Homo sapiens: one gene and its partners. The protein of the gene in region 1 purifies or fractionates together with the protein of each later gene. This does not show direct contact. Each region holds a gene or a part of one and is shown in the gene's direction. Other genes may lie near its edges.

The links. The genes of interacting proteins can lie anywhere in the genome.
Region 2: the proteins of SGTB (region 1) and TLN2 purify together in Homo sapiens (affinity purification with mass spectrometry; one large-scale study listed by BioGRID and IntAct). This does not show direct contact.
Region 3: the proteins of SGTB (region 1) and USP15 purify together in Homo sapiens (affinity purification with mass spectrometry; one large-scale study listed by BioGRID and IntAct). This does not show direct contact.
Region 4: the proteins of SGTB (region 1) and FURIN purify together in Homo sapiens (affinity purification with mass spectrometry; one large-scale study listed by BioGRID and IntAct). This does not show direct contact.

Annotation. Positions count from the first base shown.
Region 1 is NC_000005.10:65,679,549-65,684,957, reverse strand, and holds part of SGTB (small glutamine-rich tetratricopeptide repeat-containing protein beta), read left to right. Parts: intron 1-4,163; coding exon 4,164-4,302; intron 4,303-4,401; coding exon 4,402-4,464; intron 4,465-5,409. UniProt on the Homo sapiens protein: Co-chaperone that binds directly to HSC70 and HSP70 and regulates their ATPase activity.
Region 2 is NC_000015.10:62,704,096-62,708,549, forward strand, and holds part of TLN2 (talin-2), read left to right. Parts: intron 1-2,990; coding exon 2,991-3,158; intron 3,159-4,406; coding exon 4,407-4,454. UniProt on the Homo sapiens protein: As a major component of focal adhesion plaques that links integrin to the actin cytoskeleton, may play an important role in cell adhesion. Recruits PIP5K1C to focal adhesion plaques and strongly activates its kinase activity.
Region 3 is NC_000012.12:62,412,693-62,416,889, forward strand, and holds the end of USP15 (ubiquitin carboxyl-terminal hydrolase 15), read left to right. Parts: 3' UTR 1-3,697; downstream 3,698-4,197. UniProt on the Homo sapiens protein: Hydrolase that removes conjugated ubiquitin from target proteins and regulates various pathways such as the TGF-beta receptor signaling, NF-kappa-B and RNF41/NRDP1-PRKN pathways.
Region 4 is NC_000015.10:90,874,134-90,878,587, forward strand, and holds part of FURIN (furin isoform 1 preproprotein), read left to right. Parts: intron 1-1,448; 5' UTR 1,449-1,607; coding exon 1,608-1,784; intron 1,785-2,121; coding exon 2,122-2,220; intron 2,221-2,328; coding exon 2,329-2,424; intron 2,425-2,762; coding exon 2,763-2,891; intron 2,892-3,001; coding exon 3,002-3,078; intron 3,079-3,393; coding exon 3,394-3,482; intron 3,483-3,998; coding exon 3,999-4,171; intron 4,172-4,454. UniProt on the Homo sapiens protein: Ubiquitous endoprotease within constitutive secretory pathways capable of cleavage at the RX(K/R)R consensus motif. Mediates processing of TGFB1, an essential step in TGF-beta-1 activation.

The DNA of each region.
Region 1 (5,409 bases):
TTTTTGAAGGAAAACAACTCATTTTCCTCCTTGCAAATCCATCAGTCTGCCTACATTTGTATCTACACAGAATGCCCTTTTTTCTTGTTAAAATGGAAGCATTCTGGCTGGGCGTGGTGACTCACGCCTGTAATCCCAGCACTTTGGAAGGCCAAGGTGGGCAGATCACTTGAGGTCAGGAGTTTAAGACCAGCCTGCCCAACATGGTGAAACCCCGTCTCTACTAAAAATACAAAAATTAGCCAGGCATGGTGATGAGCACCCGCAGACCCAGCTACTCAGGAGGCTAAGGCAGGAGAATCACTTGAACCTGGGCGGCAGAGGTTGCAGTGAGCTGAGATAGAGCCACTGCACTCCAGTCTGGGTGACAGATTGAGACTCTGTCTCAAAAAAAAAGAAGCATTCTTACCTAAGACCATTGCCTCCACTCATGCTTTAAGATCCCATTCCCTTGTACCTTCTCCACAACTTTGCAACTATTACAATCCCCTTCATTTTCTACAACATTAGATCTTCCATCTCTAATAGATGATAATGGTTGGCATGTGATCAGGTCATAAAAAGTCATTCACTGAGCCAGGTGCAGTGGCTAACACCTGTAATCCCAGCATTTTGGGAGGCCAAGGTGGGAGAAATGCTTGAGCCCAGGAGTTCAAGACCAGCCTGGGCAACATAGCAAGACCCCATCTCTATAAAAATACAAAAATTATCCAGGAGTGGTGGGGTACACCTGTAGTCCCAGCTACTTGGGAGGCTGAGGTGAGAAGATTGCTTGAGTCTGGGAAGTCGAGGCTGTGGTGAGCCGTGATCGTGTCACTGCACTCCAGCCTGAGTGACAGAGTGAGACCCTGTCTCAAAAAAAAGAAAAAAAATCATTAGTTGGACCCATCCCTTTACCCAGCGTTCCCCTCTAGCCACCATCCCACTTCTCAGTTCCTCGTTCTCTGCCCCTGATGGTTATCTGTACTTGCTGTTTCATCTTTGTCATCTCTTTTTTTCTTTTTTTTTTTTTGAGACAGAGTCTCGCTCTGTCACCCAGGCTGCAGTGCAGTGGCGCGATCTCAGCTTACTGCAAGCTTTGCCTCCTGGGTTCACGCCATTCTCCTGTCTCAGCCTCCCGAGTAGCTGGGACTACAGGCACCCGCCACCATGCCCAGCTAATTTTTTGTATTTTTAGTAGAGACGGGGTTTCACTGCGTTAGCCAGGATGGTCTCGATCTCCTGACCTCACGATCCACCCACCTCGGCCTCCCAAAGTGCTGGGATTACAGGCCACTATTAACTTATTGTCAAAATACATCACTCTCTAGGATCCTGACACTACACTTGCCCTGTTTCCCCTTCCACTTTACTGGATGCTCTTTTCCAGTCTCCCTTGCTTGTTCTTCCTCTCTACCATCTCTAAACAATGCTGTATTTTAGGGTTGCATCCTCTGCTGCTGCTGTTTCTTTGTCTTCTCTCTGCTCAGTTTATCCTGCTCCATGCTTTTAAAATTCATCTACAGTTGATACTCATTATTTGCAGATTCTGTATTTATGAATTTGCCTACTTGCTAAATTAATTTGTAATCCCCAAATCAATATTTACACTGCTTCTGTGGTCATTCATGTACATGCACAATTAGTGAAAATGTGTCTTCTGATGCTCTCGATCTCAACTGAGGGTGAATAAGGTGATGCTCTATCTTTTTGTTTCAGCTCTCATGCTGAAACAGTCTATTTAGTGCTACATTTTTTTTTGTATTTTTGTGCCTTTTATTTGTGATTTTGCTGTTTACAGTGGCCCCCAACTATAGGCTGAAGTGTTATCTAGTATTCCTAAGTGCAAGAGGACTGTAATGTGCCTTATGGAGAAAATATATTTATGAGACAAGCTTCATTCAGGCATGAGTTAGTGCCGTTGGCTATGAGTTCAATGCTAATGAATAAAATATATATATTAAATAAAGTTTCTTTAATCAGAAACACACATAAAAACAAGATTATATATTGATCAGTTGATGAAAATATGACTATTTACAACAGTTGCAGGAACCTAACTCTGTATTTTCCCTAGGAACAATTGTTCAGTATTTGCTAATTCATTGTTCATGGTGACTTTATAGAACAGGACTACTGTGAATAAGAATCAACTATATATATTATCGGATCTAATTTATATGTTTGAACTCCGTACTCATATATTCTACTACTCTTCAACTCTATGTTTGGATGTTTAATAGGTATTTAAACTTAACATGTCCCAGACAGAACTCATGTTCCCTTCCAAAATCTTTCCAATCTCAATACATTGTACAATTAGTTATCTATCCCATGCACAGGTCAGAAGCCTAAGAGTCATCCTTCATTGTTATTACGCCTGACATAAGTACTGATACTCTGTCATCAAGTCCTGTCAATTCTAGTTTCTGTATATATCTTGAATCCAAGTGTTGATCGCTATCTTACATATAGCCCCAGTCCAAACTACATCTCTTACCTAAGCTACTGCAATAGCTTCCTAACCGATCTCCCTGCCTCCATTCTACCCTTCTGCCCATGTAGATCCTCTACGTAGAAGCCAGAGTGAGCTTTCAAAAGCACAAATTGTATCATGTGACTCCATTGCAACCAGAATAAAGTTCAAACTCCAAGCAATGGTCCTCTATCATCTGGCACCCAACTGTTCTCTGACATCATCTCTCCATGCTTTGTTTTCTGTGTTCCCTCCTCATCAGCCCTTGTCCTGTTCCTTAAGAATACCAAGCTTGCATCTTTCTTGGGACCTTTCTGTTTACTGCTATTTCCACTACAATGCTCCTCCCTCATTTTCATGACTGCTTTCTTTACATCACTCAGATCTTTCCAATGTGGCTACTTTTTGAGCAGCTCTCCTATTCATTCCTTTAATATTGCCCTTTTTATTTGCATGCTTGTTGCCTGTCTTCCCCAGGTAGAATGAAATTTTCTTAAAGACAGAAAACTTTATCTTTTTTTTTTTTTGAGATGGAATTTCGCTCTTGTTTTCCAGGCTGGAGTGCAATGGCACAATCTCGGCCCACTGCAACCTCCGCCTCCTGGATTCAAGCAATTCTCATGCCTCAGCCTTCCTAGTAGCTGGGATTACAGGCGTCTGCCACCATGCTTGGCTAATTTTTGTATTTTTAGTAGAGACAGGGCTTCACCATGTTGGCCAGACTGGTCTCAGACTCCTGACCTCAAGTGATCCACCCACCCTGGCCTCCCAAAGTGCTGCTGGGATTAGAGACGTGGGCCACTGCGCCCAGCCAGGATCCTCAGTATCTTTAGATATTATTTTAATAATATTCTTATACATCATAGAGTTTCAGTAAATAGTTACTGACTTGACTCTTGATTAACTGGGGACTCTGATAAAGTATCATACATGGTTGACTGGTAGAAAATGAATTAGGTTCCGATAAAGAGAAAAAGAGAAAAGAAAACAGTAATTTGTTTAAAACAAACCTAAAACAAACAGAAACCCCTAATACTATGTCACCATATATACAGTTATTGTTTAGTTCTATAATAATTTTTCAATAAGTAAATTATAACTAGGTAAATATGAACATTAAAATTTAATACCTCTTTGACTTGTGCCTGGTATAATTTGTTATTTGAATTGTAAAGGATGCTAATTTTATCTACCTCTTTTGATCAGGAATAGTTATCTAATAACTACAGCCTGTTTTCTTAATGGAAAATTGATATTAATTGTTCCTCTGTTAGGAAGAAGAAAGCATGTAGGCCATTTTGAAGCACAAATACAGTTTAGAGTCCTTAAAAATGGTGTTAGCATCATGGATTTATGTGACCACATGATTGTCAACTCACATCTTTTGGAACTTAGTCTAGGCATTTATAAAGCAAATTATTTTACATATTAAGCTTAAAAATGGTAGAGTAAGTAAGATAATCTCTAAGCATTAAATTCATGATCTATAGGACAACCAGGTTATCAGCAAGCAGAATGGAGTGAGTTCAGATATATAGAATCTTAAGTTGGAGGGAATTTTGCTCCCGTGAGCCATAGTACAGTGAATAAATTAAGTGTAATCTGGATTAGAACTGAATACCAAGACAGACAGACGTTTGACGATGTTTGTGATGTCCTGATGTTCTTTAATCATATATCTGATATTCTTATATTCTATTCCCTTCAGGCTGGCCCTCACTGCCTTGAATAAATTTGAAGAAGCAGTTACAAGTTATCAAAAGGCATTAGATCTTGACCCTGAAAATGATTCCTATAAGTCAAATCTGAAAATAGCAGAACAGAAGTTAAGAGAGGTATCCAGTCCTGTAAGTTGTTAATGCCAAATGAGTGAAGTATTTTCTGTCATTCACAATTTATTGTAATTGTAGATACTGGACTGATTCTCAGATATAATTGTTTTACAGACAGGAACTGGACTGAGCTTTGACATGGCTAGCTTGATAAATAATCCAGCCTTCATTAGTATGGTGAGTATACTTTCTTTTCTGCCTCTACTGGCTATGTTTTCCATAGACTATGTAGCTATGCAATTTTTTTTAGAAACAAGTGAGTTTTTGTGGTGGTGGTTGTAGTGGAGTATTGATATAAGGCTATAGCAGGGTTCTGTTTTTTTATTTCCAACTTTTATTTCAAGTGCAGGGGTAAATGTGCAGGATGTGCAGGTTTGTTACATAGGTAAAACGTCTGCCATGGTAGTTTGCTGCACAGATCCTCCCATTACCCAGGTATTAAGCCCAGCATCTATTAGCTGTTCTTCGTGATCCTTCCTCTCCTCCCATCCTCTGCCCTCCAACAGGCCCCAGTGTGTGTTGTTCCCCTACATGTGTCATTGTGTTCTCATCATTTGGCTCCCACTTGTAAGTGAGAACATGTGTTATTTGGTTTTCTTTTCCTGTGTTAGTTTGTTAAGTAAAATGGTAAAATGGCCTCCAGCTCCATCCATGTCCCTGCGAGGGACATAATCTTATTTCTTGTTTTGGCTGCATAGCATTCCATGGTGTATATGTACCGCATTTTCTTTATCCAGTCTATCATTGATAGGCATTTGCATTGATTCCATGTCTTTGCTATTGTGAATAGTGCTGCAGTGAACATACGTACGAATGTGTATTTACAGTAGAAAGATTTCTATTCCTTCGGGTATATACCCAGTAATGGGATTGCTGGGTCGAATGGTATTTCTGCTTCTAGGTCTTTGAGGAATCACCACACTGTCTTCCACAATGGTTGAACTAATTTACATTTCCACCAACAGTGTTAAAAGCATTCCTTTTTCTCCACAACTTCGCCAGCATCTGTTGGTTTTTGTTTTTTTTGTTGTTGTTGTTGTTTGTTTGTTTTTTGAGACAGAGTTTCACTCTTGTCACCCAGTCTGGAGTGCAATGGTGTGATCTTGGCTCACTGCAACCTCC
Region 2 (4,454 bases), on another chromosome or scaffold:
ATTCTACAGAATTTCATTGGCCTTCACTTATTAAAATGTTTTTTGAATTATTTATTTATATATATAATGAAATATTTACTTAGAAGAAATCACAAAAAATTACGAACTTATATGAACTAACACCACAAATATCACCAAATCTAGAAAAATAACGTAATGTTTTTATTAACTACCTGACACTTCTAAATACCTTTTTTCCTGCATTTTTGACTTCATCTGTTTTGACCACCTCTTCATTTGGCAATGATTTTATAATATTTTATAGACGGAACAAAAAGATCCTCTGGCATTCAGGTTTCTTGCTTCATGGGTGGCAATTTTGCATGCCATTTTATCTAGAACTTCCAAATTTTATAAGCATAAGATGTGTTAGTTAAACGAAGATGGGATCATGTATGTTGTGAGACATGAAACTTCAACCTTCATCCATAGATGTGTTTGTTTCTCCTTCACTCTCCACATGCCTGTGGCACTGGGCTATGGGACTCATTCATATCCTGCAGTGCAATAAGACATTCAATGTACAGACATTCGTGTCATGATAGAGGTTGAATTCATATGATGGGTGGTAGGAATATTCCTGGAAGCCATTTCTACACTGAGATGGCTGGTCATAAGTTCCCTAGAATCAAAATGAACTGCACATCAATATATTCTGCTAAACCCAAGTTAATTGTGTCCCCATTCTAATTTGCCTTTCCATATCCCCAAACTGCCCTTGCATTGGCCTTTACTTTTTATATTAGGGCAGGTAATTATTTGTAGGCAGGTACCTATTTAGGAACTTGGTAAATATGAGATTCAGCTGCTGTTTTACTGGGCTTAATTATCTTGACGTAGTCATTTATGTTCCCCAAAAGTATTAATATTATTGTTTTCTCCAAAGTGCCAAGGAAGGTTAAGGAGAAAGTCACAATTCTTCCTTTAAACATCCCATGCAACCTTGTATTTTTTAAAAGCTTTTCCTGCCTCTCCCTGCTTTAGCAGATTATTTTCATTGTGTGTGAATGTCAACCCTGCTTCCTAATGTTTGTTTCTATTCAGATGTGCAAAGGAAGCAGGTTCAGGTTCAGGGTGACAGTCCTACAGAGCCTTTGTTAGCAGGGACAGGCCAGACTTGAATGTTTTCAATTGTTTAGCTCTCTAGGTAAAGACCAGGGCAGTAAGGTGATCCTGCAACCTCCTCCAGTTATGGGTAACTGACATTGGATTTCTTACTCTATTCTTCTGATTCTTGAGATCATATCTCAGAGCTTTTCTTGATTTCTTAATGTACTGCATGTTCCCATAGTTAACAAAGATTTATTTTACACTGGCTATATAATAGTGGTCTTGTTGAAAATTTTGACAAAGGCCTTGTCAGCAGCTATAGCTGTAGTATCACATTCTTTTTCTGACTGTATTTTTTTGGACAAAATTAATAAGAGGAACAGGATTTCTTTAAACAATTCTAACAAAGTCCTTTAGAACAATCATGATTCTATGTGACCAAATCCTGGCCCCCCATCTGAAAAGATGAATTCATATCAAGTGAGGGAATACTATGACCTACTTTGGAAAGTTATTTTTAAAAATCTTTTTAATAATTTGTGACATTCAAGCTGTGTTTTCACTGAGCATTGAGATAGATGTCCAGGAATTGTAACTTTGCCATAGTGGGAGCAATTCCTAAAAGTTGTGTGGTAGACAAGTGCCAGTCAGATCCCAAAGGGATCTTCTGCTTTCAGCACCATGGGCTTTAATTATACCTTGGATAGCCAGGAAACATCACAGACCTGAGAAAGACTGGAATAACCTGCTCCTTTAAGACCACTTAGTTTTTGTCCATTTTAAAATCAGCTTACTTGATAGATTCATGGGTTTCTGGTTTAGCTGGATTGTATCTAGTCTTTGTTCTATGTAAAATTGTGCAGGCTGAATATTATTTCCAATGTATCTTCTCATAAAATATCTCACTGTAAAGACGCTGTGGGTGCCCTTTACATTTAGAATCAAATGTGCTCTTTATCATCTGATGAATTAATAAAGACTTCTGACCGTATTTCCTTGAAGGGAAAAGCCTTGACGTGTTTGTTCCAAATAAAAATGGCTCATATGTTTGGGAAGGCATTTCCAAGTCAAATAAACTACTTTCAGTATTAAAAGCAAAGAAGTAAATTAATTGTAACCATGGTTCTTCTTCAGGTCAGACAGATGGGTGACAAATCTGGTAGGCTCAATCAAAGGATTCTTCTTTCTGCAGGCAGAATGCCTAGTCATTGAGTTGAAGCATAAACTAGCTCCTCGCATTTTCAGTCAGACCATCTTATAGCTAGTGTATTTATATAGGCTCTCTTTCTGCTTTCTGTAATAATTTAATTCCTACCCAGAAGGCTGCAGAACACTGAGAATAACTCATGTTCAGAGCATTTCTTGGCTCTTGAGCTATAGGTATTGGTGCCAGCTATGTGTCTGTGCACATCAAATGTTGCCCTCTGGAGGTAGAGATATGGCTAAATTTCTGATGACGACTTGGATCTTTGTGCAAAGTAGAAATCCAAAAGATACATTTTCAAGTTGCAGTGGGGCATGATGACTGGAGGCCATGAATTATAACCTTCTTATGGCACATGATGTTGTGGCATCTGGATATGTTTTCAGCTTCTCCTGATCTACCATATCAGCCACTCATTCAAGAGACGTGGTCAAGACTTCGTGTTAGATAAGTGCATGAATGGGAATCAGTGGTTAAAATAATGACCCTTCCCTCAAATTAACTATTTTAGATTTAAACCTATGCTACTTAATGGATGTAAGAGACTGAGTTATTAGGATACAAGTCTCCTTTTTTAATTACTTCTAAGGATAAGTTGACATTTCAAAAAAAAGTAAAAAAACTTCTAAAGTACTGAAGGAAAAAGATCAAATGGAATTTTAATAACGTTTATTTTCAGGCTGTGAAAGGTGATTAGAGAAAAATAAATGAATAGTCTTTGATTCCCTTTTCTTAGGATGTTTTAATGAGTTTGGCCAAAGCTGTTGCCAATGCAGCTGCCATGTTGGTACTAAAGGCAAAGAATGTTGCCCAAGTGGCCGAAGACACTGTCCTACAGAACAGGGTAATTGCTGCTGCCACCCAGTGTGCCCTCTCCACCTCCCAGCTTGTGGCATGTGCCAAGGTAAGCCAGCTGGCACCCCAGCCCTTTCTACCCAGTATCACCTGCTGTTACCTGCCTCCAGGCATTTGGTGTGTAGCAGGGGCAGAATTTGTTTAAATAGTCCGAGATTTAGAGCTTCCTTAAAGTGTCTTAAGTGATGATAGGATTTTAGCATAAGCGGTCAAATTCTGCTTTTATCATTTGTTCTTTGCCCAAGTCCTCAGGCCGTTGGTACTTTTCACTAGTTCATTTCTATATGCAAATTGCTGTGTCTCCCCTTTGGACTTCTCAGTGCATCTTTACACCTGCACAAAAATAGTTCTTGCAATGCGTGGTACAGCATTACAAATGGGTTCAGAAATAATCCACAGAGTTTATGGGAACCCTTTCTAGGCTGCACAGGGTCCGAGTGGGGATTTTAATTGTTGCCAGGGTATACACACTCAGTGTGTCATACATCACCTCATTACATCTCCCCGGTAATCCTGCAAATTAAGCACCATTATCTCTAGTTTACTGATGAGGAATCTGAGGCCCTTAGATGTCAGTAGGTTAAGGCCACAGAAGTAGTAAGTGGCAGAACTAGAGTTACAACTCAAGTCCATCTGCCTCCAAATACGCTTTCCCCTCTACTTCATGTGTCCTCTCGGTGATGATGCAGCAGAAGATGGGAAATGTCCGTTTCTGGAATTGATGGCCTGTCATGTTGTATAGATCTGTGATCTGGCTCAGCTTGGCATCAATAGCCTGTGGTAAGATTTGCAGCATCGTCTCCCTCAAGCTTTCATTGTCCACGCTGCTAGAATTTACAAGGAACTGACAGAACCCCCCTGTTCTTTAAAGGACTATGAGGCAGAGTTTCAGGTGTTTCTGGGAATAGAAATAGAATTCTTTTAGGTAGTCTTTGTATCCCAACTCAAAAGACTCAATTCAAAGGATCCTAAAATGAAGGAGGTATAATTGGGAAATCTCAGAAATTTCTCTGTATGGAAGTAGGGCAGTAGTATGGACTGTCACATGTGACTAATGAAGTTATAAATTAGTGGGACATGTCAAATCACAAGGATGAAGTAGAATAGCAGAGCGTGTGAGACTGAAGCAATGGTTTCATTGAATGAAATGGTCAGGTAAGTAAGAAACCGAGCAGTGGTCCTGTAAGTAAGAAACCGAGGCCCAGAGCAGGAAGGGCTTTGATGGGACTGCGGGGGCACATGGAGAGGGACCAGGATTCAACCACAGTGCCCAAAACCTGTTCCTGTCTCACTTCAGGTTGTGAGCCCCACTATTAGCTCCCCTGTGTGCCAGGAGCAGCTGATT
Region 3 (4,197 bases), on another chromosome or scaffold:
TTATCATAAGATTGCAGCAATCCAGACACATCTTCAGGCTCCACTTGTAGTTCTCTTGCTATTTTCACCGCATCTGCAGTTACTGCCGCCACTGAGGTTTTGAACTTCTCAAAGTCATGAAAGTTGTAATTAACTTCTTTCAAACTCTTGTTAATGTTGATATTTTGACTCCCATGAATCACAAATATTCTGAATGAATGGCATCCAGAATAGCAAATCCTTTTCAGAAGGTTTTTATTTTGCCCAGATCCATCAGAGGAATCACTATCTATGAAAGCTTTTGCCTTATAAAATGTATTTCTTGGATGATAAGACTTGAAAGCTGAAGTTATTCTTTGATCTATGGCTGCAGAATGGATGTTGTGTTAGCAGGCAGAAAAACACTAATCTCATACATCTCCATAGAGCTCTTGGGTGACCAGGTGCACTTGTCAATGAGCAGTAATATTTTGAAAGGAATCTTTTTCTGAGCAATAGATCTCCGCAGTGGGCTTAAAATATTTAGTAAACCTTCCTATAAACGGATGTGCTACCATCCAGGCTTTATGGTTCCTTTTATAGAGCAAAAACATTATATTTAGTTTAATTTTAAGGACCCTAGGATTTTTGGAATGATAAATGAACATTAGTTAGCATTGCATTGGCCCCTAACAAGAAATCAGTCTCTCGTTTGAAGCCAAGCATCAACTTTTCTCTAGCTATGAAAGTCCTGGATGACATCTTCCAACATAAGACTTTCATCTACATTGAAAGTTTGTTTTTAGTGTAACTACCTTCATCAATGATCTTAGCTAGATCTTCTGGATAACTTGCTGTAGTTTCTACTTTAGCAGTTGCTGCTTCACCTTATGCTTGTCTGTTGTGGAGACAGCTTGTTTCCTTAAACTCCATGAATCAACCACTGCTAGCTTCAGACTTTTCTTCTGCAGCTTCCTTACCTTAGCCTCCATAGAATTGAAGAGAGAGGGCCTTGCTCTGCGTTAGGCTTTGGCTTAAGATAGTGTTGTGGCTGATTTGATCTATTAAAAAAAAAAAAACTCAGGCTTTCTCTATACCACTTTTCTTATGATTCATGTGTTCACTTGAGTAGCACTTTTAATTTCAGGAACTCTTCCTTTGGATATACAACTTGGCTGTTTGGCTCAAGAGGCCTAGCTTTCAGCTTGCCTTGGCTTTCAACATGCTTTCCTCACTAAGCTCCAATCATTTATAGCATTTGATTGAGAGAGAGAGAGAGATGTACAGCTCTTCACCTGAACATTTAGAGGCCATTGGATGGTTATTAACTGGCCTGGTTTTAATAGTGTTATGTCTCAGGGAATAGGGAGGCACATGGAGAGGGAGAGAGATGGGGAATGGCCAGTGGAGCAGTTGGAACACACACGTCTGTGCCCTCAAACAAAACAGTAACATCAAAGATTACTGATCACAGATCACCGTAACAGATACAATAATAATGAAGACATTTGAAATGTGAGAAGTACCAAGATATGACACACACACAGTAAGCACATTCTGTTAGGAAAATAACACCTATAGATGTGCTCAATGTAGGCTTGCCACAAGCCTTGTTTGTAAAAAAACAAAAACAATTATCTTCAAAGCATGATAATAAAGTGAAGCAGAATAAAACAAGGTATGCCTGGTTTTTGTTTTGTTTTGTTTTGAGACAAGGTCTTTCTCTGTCACCCAGGCTGGAGTGCAGTGGCACAATCTCATCTCACTGCAGCCTCCAGCCTCTGGGCTCAAGTGGTCCTCCCACCTCAGCCTCCGAAGTAGCTGGGTCTACAGGCATGTGCCACCACACCACACCTGGCTAATTTTTGTAGAGACCAGGTTTCACCATGTTACCCAGGCTGGTTTTGAAGTCTTGAACTCAGGCGATCCATCCACCTCGGCCTCCCAAAGTGCTGGGATTACAGGCATGAACCACAGCACCTGGCCATGTATTTTCATTTAACCAGTACTAAATAACTACATGTCTTTGGCAGCCTATAATGTAGCATCCCATTTTTAAAAATAGAAGTGTGTATTCAGGGTGCACTCAATAGGATTACATCTGGCTGGCAGTCCCTTCCTACTTCAGTCCATTATCCTGCTACCAGAATGATCTTCATGGTTTCATTTAAAAAAAAAAAAAATGAGATCCTGTTTCTGTCTTAAAGTTCTCTTCTAATTCCTTGTATTAATCAGGATTCTCCAGAGAAACAAGACCAATAGGATGCATATGTGTATACACATATATGTATAGCTCTCTCCCTCATATATACACATATCATGTATATACATATATATCATATATGTACATATATATATATATATATGAGGGAGAGAAAGATTTATAAGGAATTAGTTCATGCACTTAGGCTGAGAAGTCTCATGATCTTCAGTCAGCAGGCTGGAGACCCAGGAATGCCAATGGTGTAGTTCAAGTCCGAGTCCAAAGGGTTGAGAACCAGGAAAACCAATGATAAAAGTTCCAGTCCACAAGCTACCTGGCTAAAGACCCAGGAAGACTGAATGTTTCAGTTTTAGTGCAAAGGCAGGAAAAGACTGATGTCCCAGTTCAATCAGGCAAGAGAAATTATCCTTACTTGAGCCTTTTTTGTTCTATTCAGGCCTTCAATTCATGAGAGCCACCAACATTAGAGAGGGCAATCTGCCTTACTCAGTCTACTGACTTAAATGTTAATCTCATCCAAAAACACCCTCATAGATATGCCCAGAATAATGTTTGACCACATATCTGGGCACCCTGTGGCCCAGTCAACACATTAAATAAACCATCACATCCCTTCATGTAGAAAAGAGTGGTTTGGACCATAGGCTCAGGAGTTAAACCACCTCTGAGCCTACCACTTTTGTGCAACTCACCTCACCTCTCTGCCTTTCACCTCTCTGTAAACTAGAGCAGCTCCCGAATGTCCATCTAGGAAGGCTTGGGGTGAGCAACCTGATTAGAAGGGAACAATGTGACTTAAAACTGCATATTTGCTTAGCAAACCTATGACTTTTCTCAGAATATACAGTTTGCTTGTGATGGAGGGCTATTAATATTTATAAGGAAACCAAATCCCCATTCACTTAAGCCATCCACTCCTACCACTGTAATTGAATATTACCTACCTTTCAGAATAATTGCAAGGTTTTGTGTCTTGATCATTATGAAAAATGTGGCAGGTATTATTACTAATAAAGAAGTACCCAACTATGGGAATGATTGTTCCTTCCTTATGAATGAGAGCAGCTCTCTGTTCAATACGATTCATACTCAAGTTCTAATAAACTTTCTTTAGCAAGAGAGCAAAGAGTATGGTACAGTCAGTCCACCCAGGTTGCCTGTTAACCTGGTGCTTGAAGGAAAAAAAGTAAGAATTTGCCCTCATCTAATTCCTCACTTGCCCTCAAACATGTCATACTACTTGACAATGGGGCTTTCCCACATTTGTCCCACATTTGCATGGTCTGCCTTATCTCTTACCTGGCGAACTCCTACACTCCTTCAAGACTTGCTCCAAAATGCACTTGCTAGATCTTCTGACATCAACTGCCACCTTGGGCTATAAGTTACGTGTGTCTCTTCCCCCACTAGACAATTACCTGATGGAAGAATATTGTTCTTAAGATGTTAAGATGGTGTATGTGTGGCATAGTATTTGTTCCTAAATGTAAAAGTTATTAAACAAGTTTTCTGAAAGTCTGAAGCTTTATTGTGTTTATTGTGATTGTGTTGTATTCCTGACATGTTGCTGGCTACATATTTTAACAGCTTTAAAAGTAATTTACCTTATGAATGTGCACTAAAAACGTACATTTTAGATATACTAACATTTTAAGTTCGGTATTTATGAATTTGGAATATTCAAGATTAAATGTAGAAAATTTATATTTCATTTATATTTTTCTAAAGAAGTTTTAATTGTAAGGAATTCTTTTTTCCAGTAAGGAAGATACAGTTGCTATCTCTTGCTCCAGTTGGAGGGCATCCTGAATTCCCATTTGTTCAGACGCTTTTCACAACTTGGAGCTTCTGGCATCTCCACAAAAATAATACTTTGACTACACAAGGCCAGGAATACTTTTTTGAGTTGGGGATACCCCAAACATTTATCTGTTCAATACAGTTGTCCAAAGACAAGGAATGTACTCTTGATTTGGGTTCTTTGTCACCTCAAAAATCTATATTACACCTTAGAC
Region 4 (4,454 bases), on another chromosome or scaffold:
CCTCCCCTAGCTTCCCCCCCTTCCTCCAGGGCCTTGGCTTCTGGCTAGTCAGGGGCACTATGTGGGGACAGTTATGTGGCCCCGGGCAGAGAGAGGTCCCGCCGTCTGTTTGCTGAAGGAGGAAAAACAACACTCGGACTATTGATTCAGTCTCACCTTGGCGCTCCTGGCTCAGCAGCCAGTGTTTGCCCTGGCTGCCTGGGCTCGGATTACGCAAGGCTGGTGGGCGTGGAGCAAGCAAGGGGGCAGCTGGGGGCCTCCAGGCCCAGGCAGGGCAGGGCTTGGCGGCCCCAGCGTTCCCCAGGAAACTGTAAAAACGAGTCTGGGGCCCTGACTTTGCTGATAGCGGCCATCTCAGCCATAGAGGGAGGTGAAGCCTCTGTGATCTCCACCCCCGCACCCCCTCAGGACATGGCCCCTAAAAGCACCATCCCATTTAGGGTCACCCATTTTCTTCCTAGGAGCTGTGGGGCTTTGCGAATAACTCCCTATGGCTGAATCTGCTTTGCTGAACTAGGAAACCCTAGTGAGTTGTATAGATGCCATTCATTTAAGAACCTTGAAAAGCCAACATCTTATTCCCATGTAAAACATACCTAGGTGATTTGGAGAATACAGTGACACAAAGAAGAAAATAACAATTACTTGTAATTCTCACCATCTTGAGAGAACCACCGTTAACATTTTTTAGCGTGTGTATCCTTCCAGATTTCGCTTTAGTTTGTATAAATATACATGTATAAATAGTTTTTAAAAAATAAAATGGGATTATGTGTACATACTGCTTTATAATGCATCTTCTTTACCTTGATCATGGTGAACATTTATTCATTTGTTGTTTCTGATTTTGAGTGACTCAGGGCTTGATAGTCTTCATCCTGCTTCTTCTGTTACACTTTTTTTTTTTTTTTTTTTTTTGAGAGGGAGTATCGTTCTGTCGCACAGACTGGGAATGCAGTGGCGCGATCTTGGCTCACTGCAACCTCCACCTCCTGGGCTCAAGCAATTCTTGTGCCTCAGCCTCCCAAGTCGCTGGCACTACAAGCACCCGCCACCACACTTGGCTCATGTTTGTATTTTTAGTAGAGACGAGGTTGCACCATGTTGGCCAGGCTGGCCTCGAACTCCTGACCTCAGGTGATCCACCCGCCTCAGCCTCCCAAAGTGCTGGATGACAGAAGTGAGCCACCATGCCTGGCCCTTCTGTTACATTTCTTATATTCTTGCATGGAGAAAGGATTGGGGGGGATTGTGAGGGCATCCATCTGTCCATCTATGTGGCTGGCCTTGGGGGCTAGATTTCTTCTGGGGAGGACTAATTTTTTTACCCTTCTCCCCCAGATCTCATTTCAGGCCCCAATTGAAACTTGGGGTGGGCAGGGCAGCTTTAGTGCGTAGCAGGGGAGGAACTGACCCTCTCTCCCCTTTTCCCCTCTTGTTCCTCTCAGGGTCGGCACTCTTCACCCTCCCGAGCCCTGCCCGTCTCGGCCCCATGCCCCCACCAGTCAGCCCCGGGCCACAGGCAGTGAGCAGGCACCTGGGAGCCGAGGCCCTGTGACCAGGCCAAGGAGACGGGCGCTCCAGGGTCCCAGCCACCTGTCCCCCCCATGGAGCTGAGGCCCTGGTTGCTATGGGTGGTAGCAGCAACAGGAACCTTGGTCCTGCTAGCAGCTGATGCTCAGGGCCAGAAGGTCTTCACCAACACGTGGGCTGTGCGCATCCCTGGAGGCCCAGCGGTGGCCAACAGTGTGGCACGGAAGCATGGGTTCCTCAACCTGGGCCAGGTAGGTGTTCCCCCACAGGACACTGCCAGGGGGTGGGACCAGAGAAGACAGGGATTCTGGGAGCAGGAGCTGTTGGCCTTGTTTGCTCAGGGGCATCTGGGTAGCCGGCATGTTCTGGGTGGCCATGAGCAAAGCACAGGTGGTTCAGGCAAGCAGCATATCCCAGTGAGAGTGAGTCCTCATGGTCCCCGCATTTTGCTGGGTCCCGGACAGGGAGCAGATGCCCCGCACCCCCGACCGTGGCGAGCCTCCCATGAAGCCGTTGTCCACCCCCGTCCCCCGCCTCCCGGGGACTGACAGATGGAAAGCCCAGCTCAGTCTCCCTGCTCTATTGCAGATCTTCGGGGACTATTACCACTTCTGGCATCGAGGAGTGACGAAGCGGTCCCTGTCGCCTCACCGCCCGCGGCACAGCCGGCTGCAGAGGGAGCCTCAAGTGAGTGTGGCCCCAGCCCCCTCCTGCTGCCACCCTCCCCCTCCTGCTCTCAGGAGCCCCTCTCGCCTCCTGCTCCACCCACACCATCTCTCCCTCACTCCCCCACAGGTACAGTGGCTGGAACAGCAGGTGGCAAAGCGACGGACTAAACGGGACGTGTACCAGGAGCCCACAGACCCCAAGTTTCCTCAGCAGTGGTACCTGGTACGTGGCCTTCTTCGCTGCTGGGACCTCCTCCCCAGATGCACCATCCACCCACTATGAGCTCTTGGATGGAGGAGGCTGTCTTCGAGGCCTCCTCTGATTCGTTTCCTTTCCTCCTGCTGGGCAGTCTCTCCTTGGCCCATCCTAATAAGCAAGCCTGGGGGTGGCCCTCCCAGAGTCCTCTACATTCCCATGGAGTCCAGACAGCCAGTGGCGGCCTTTCAGGAGCAGGGATGGTACAGGAGGAGGTTTTACGGGGGCAAAGGGATTCTTCAAGATGCTCCTAGCCTCACAAAACCAATCATGTCTCATAAGTGATGGGGTGGGTGTCTCCACAGTCTGGTGTCACTCAGCGGGACCTGAATGTGAAGGCGGCCTGGGCGCAGGGCTACACAGGGCACGGCATTGTGGTCTCCATTCTGGACGATGGCATCGAGAAGAACCACCCGGACTTGGCAGGCAATTATGTGAGGAAGTCGGGGAGGGAGGCCGTGATCCCTGCTGAGGTGTGTCTAGAGGCTGTCTTGTTCTATCAGTGAGGTCAGCCTTCTCCTGATGGTGGCCAAATCCTTCTTAGGATCCTGGGGCCAGTTTTGATGTCAATGACCAGGACCCTGACCCCCAGCCTCGGTACACACAGATGAATGACAACAGGTAAGAAGTGGCAGGCCCCGGTCTCTGCCTCCCTTCTCCTTTCTTCCACTAAGGAACAGGGCTGAGCCTGGGTGAGATGTGCCTTGCCTAAAAGGCTGAGGCTTTTCCCACAGTCCTGGCCCACCTGGGGCTCTGAGGGAGGGCTCGGTCAGAGTGGAGATGGCCACAGGCCCAGTGGAGTGTGGGAGATGGGGGCTGGGTACTCAGGGGATGATGGGTGTCGGATGTGCGGATCCCTCGTGCTCCTCAGGCCACATCTGCCGGGCCCTGTTCACCCCATTTGTTCTACTCATGCTACGTGCTTGGCCCTGGCAGGCACGGCACACGGTGTGCGGGGGAAGTGGCTGCGGTGGCCAACAACGGTGTCTGTGGTGTAGGTGTGGCCTACAACGCCCGCATTGGAGGTGAGTGTGGGCCTGGGCCACCCTGTCTTCAGGAGGGCCCTTCAGTGGAATTTTTCCCGCCCACTTCCCATCTGGCCAATGCCTGCCACTTTCCCACTGTGGATCCTTTGATCACGTGGCTGTTCCATGGAGGGTTCCCAAAGGGTCAAAGACTGAAAGAGCTGGACCCCTGTGGAGTGAGGGTTTCCTAGCAGGAGTCTCCTGAAATCCTCACGACCCACTGTGAGTCCTCACGTGGCAGATCCTTGATCACCAGGCTCTTTTGGGAACCAGAGACTCTTTCTAGTCCTGAATGTGTGGTTGGGGGCAGGAGGTGTTCTCTTTTTCCTTCTCTGGGTCTTGTCTTTGAAAGGCAGAGGCAAACAGGTAGTTGGGGGTTCAGGGTTTCTCAGCATCAGCCTCCACCCTTCCCTTACTCATCCCCTGGGGTGCAGGGCTGGGTGTGCTCCTTGGGGTGGGGGCCCTGACAGCTGGACCCATGCAGCATCCCTCTTCGTGCCCCCCCTTCACGGCCAGGGGTGCGCATGCTGGATGGCGAGGTGACAGATGCAGTGGAGGCACGCTCGCTGGGCCTGAACCCCAACCACATCCACATCTACAGTGCCAGCTGGGGCCCCGAGGATGACGGCAAGACAGTGGATGGGCCAGCCCGCCTCGCCGAGGAGGCCTTCTTCCGTGGGGTTAGCCAGGTGAGGTGGGGATCTGTCCAGCCCCTGCGGGCAGGTTGGGTGCTGTCTTCCGTACCTATCTTGTGTTTTTTGGTTTGTTTTATTTATTCTCATGTTTAACTTTACACAAAGCATGTTTATTGAAACATTAAGGGACAGAAGAAGAGTAGAGTGCATATACCACTTGGACTTGCCTAATTAAAAAACACATTTTTTTTAGAAATGAGGTCTTGCTGTGTTACCCAGGCTGGTCTCAAACTCCTGGCCTCAAGCGATCCTCCCGCCTTGGCCTCTTGGTCTGATT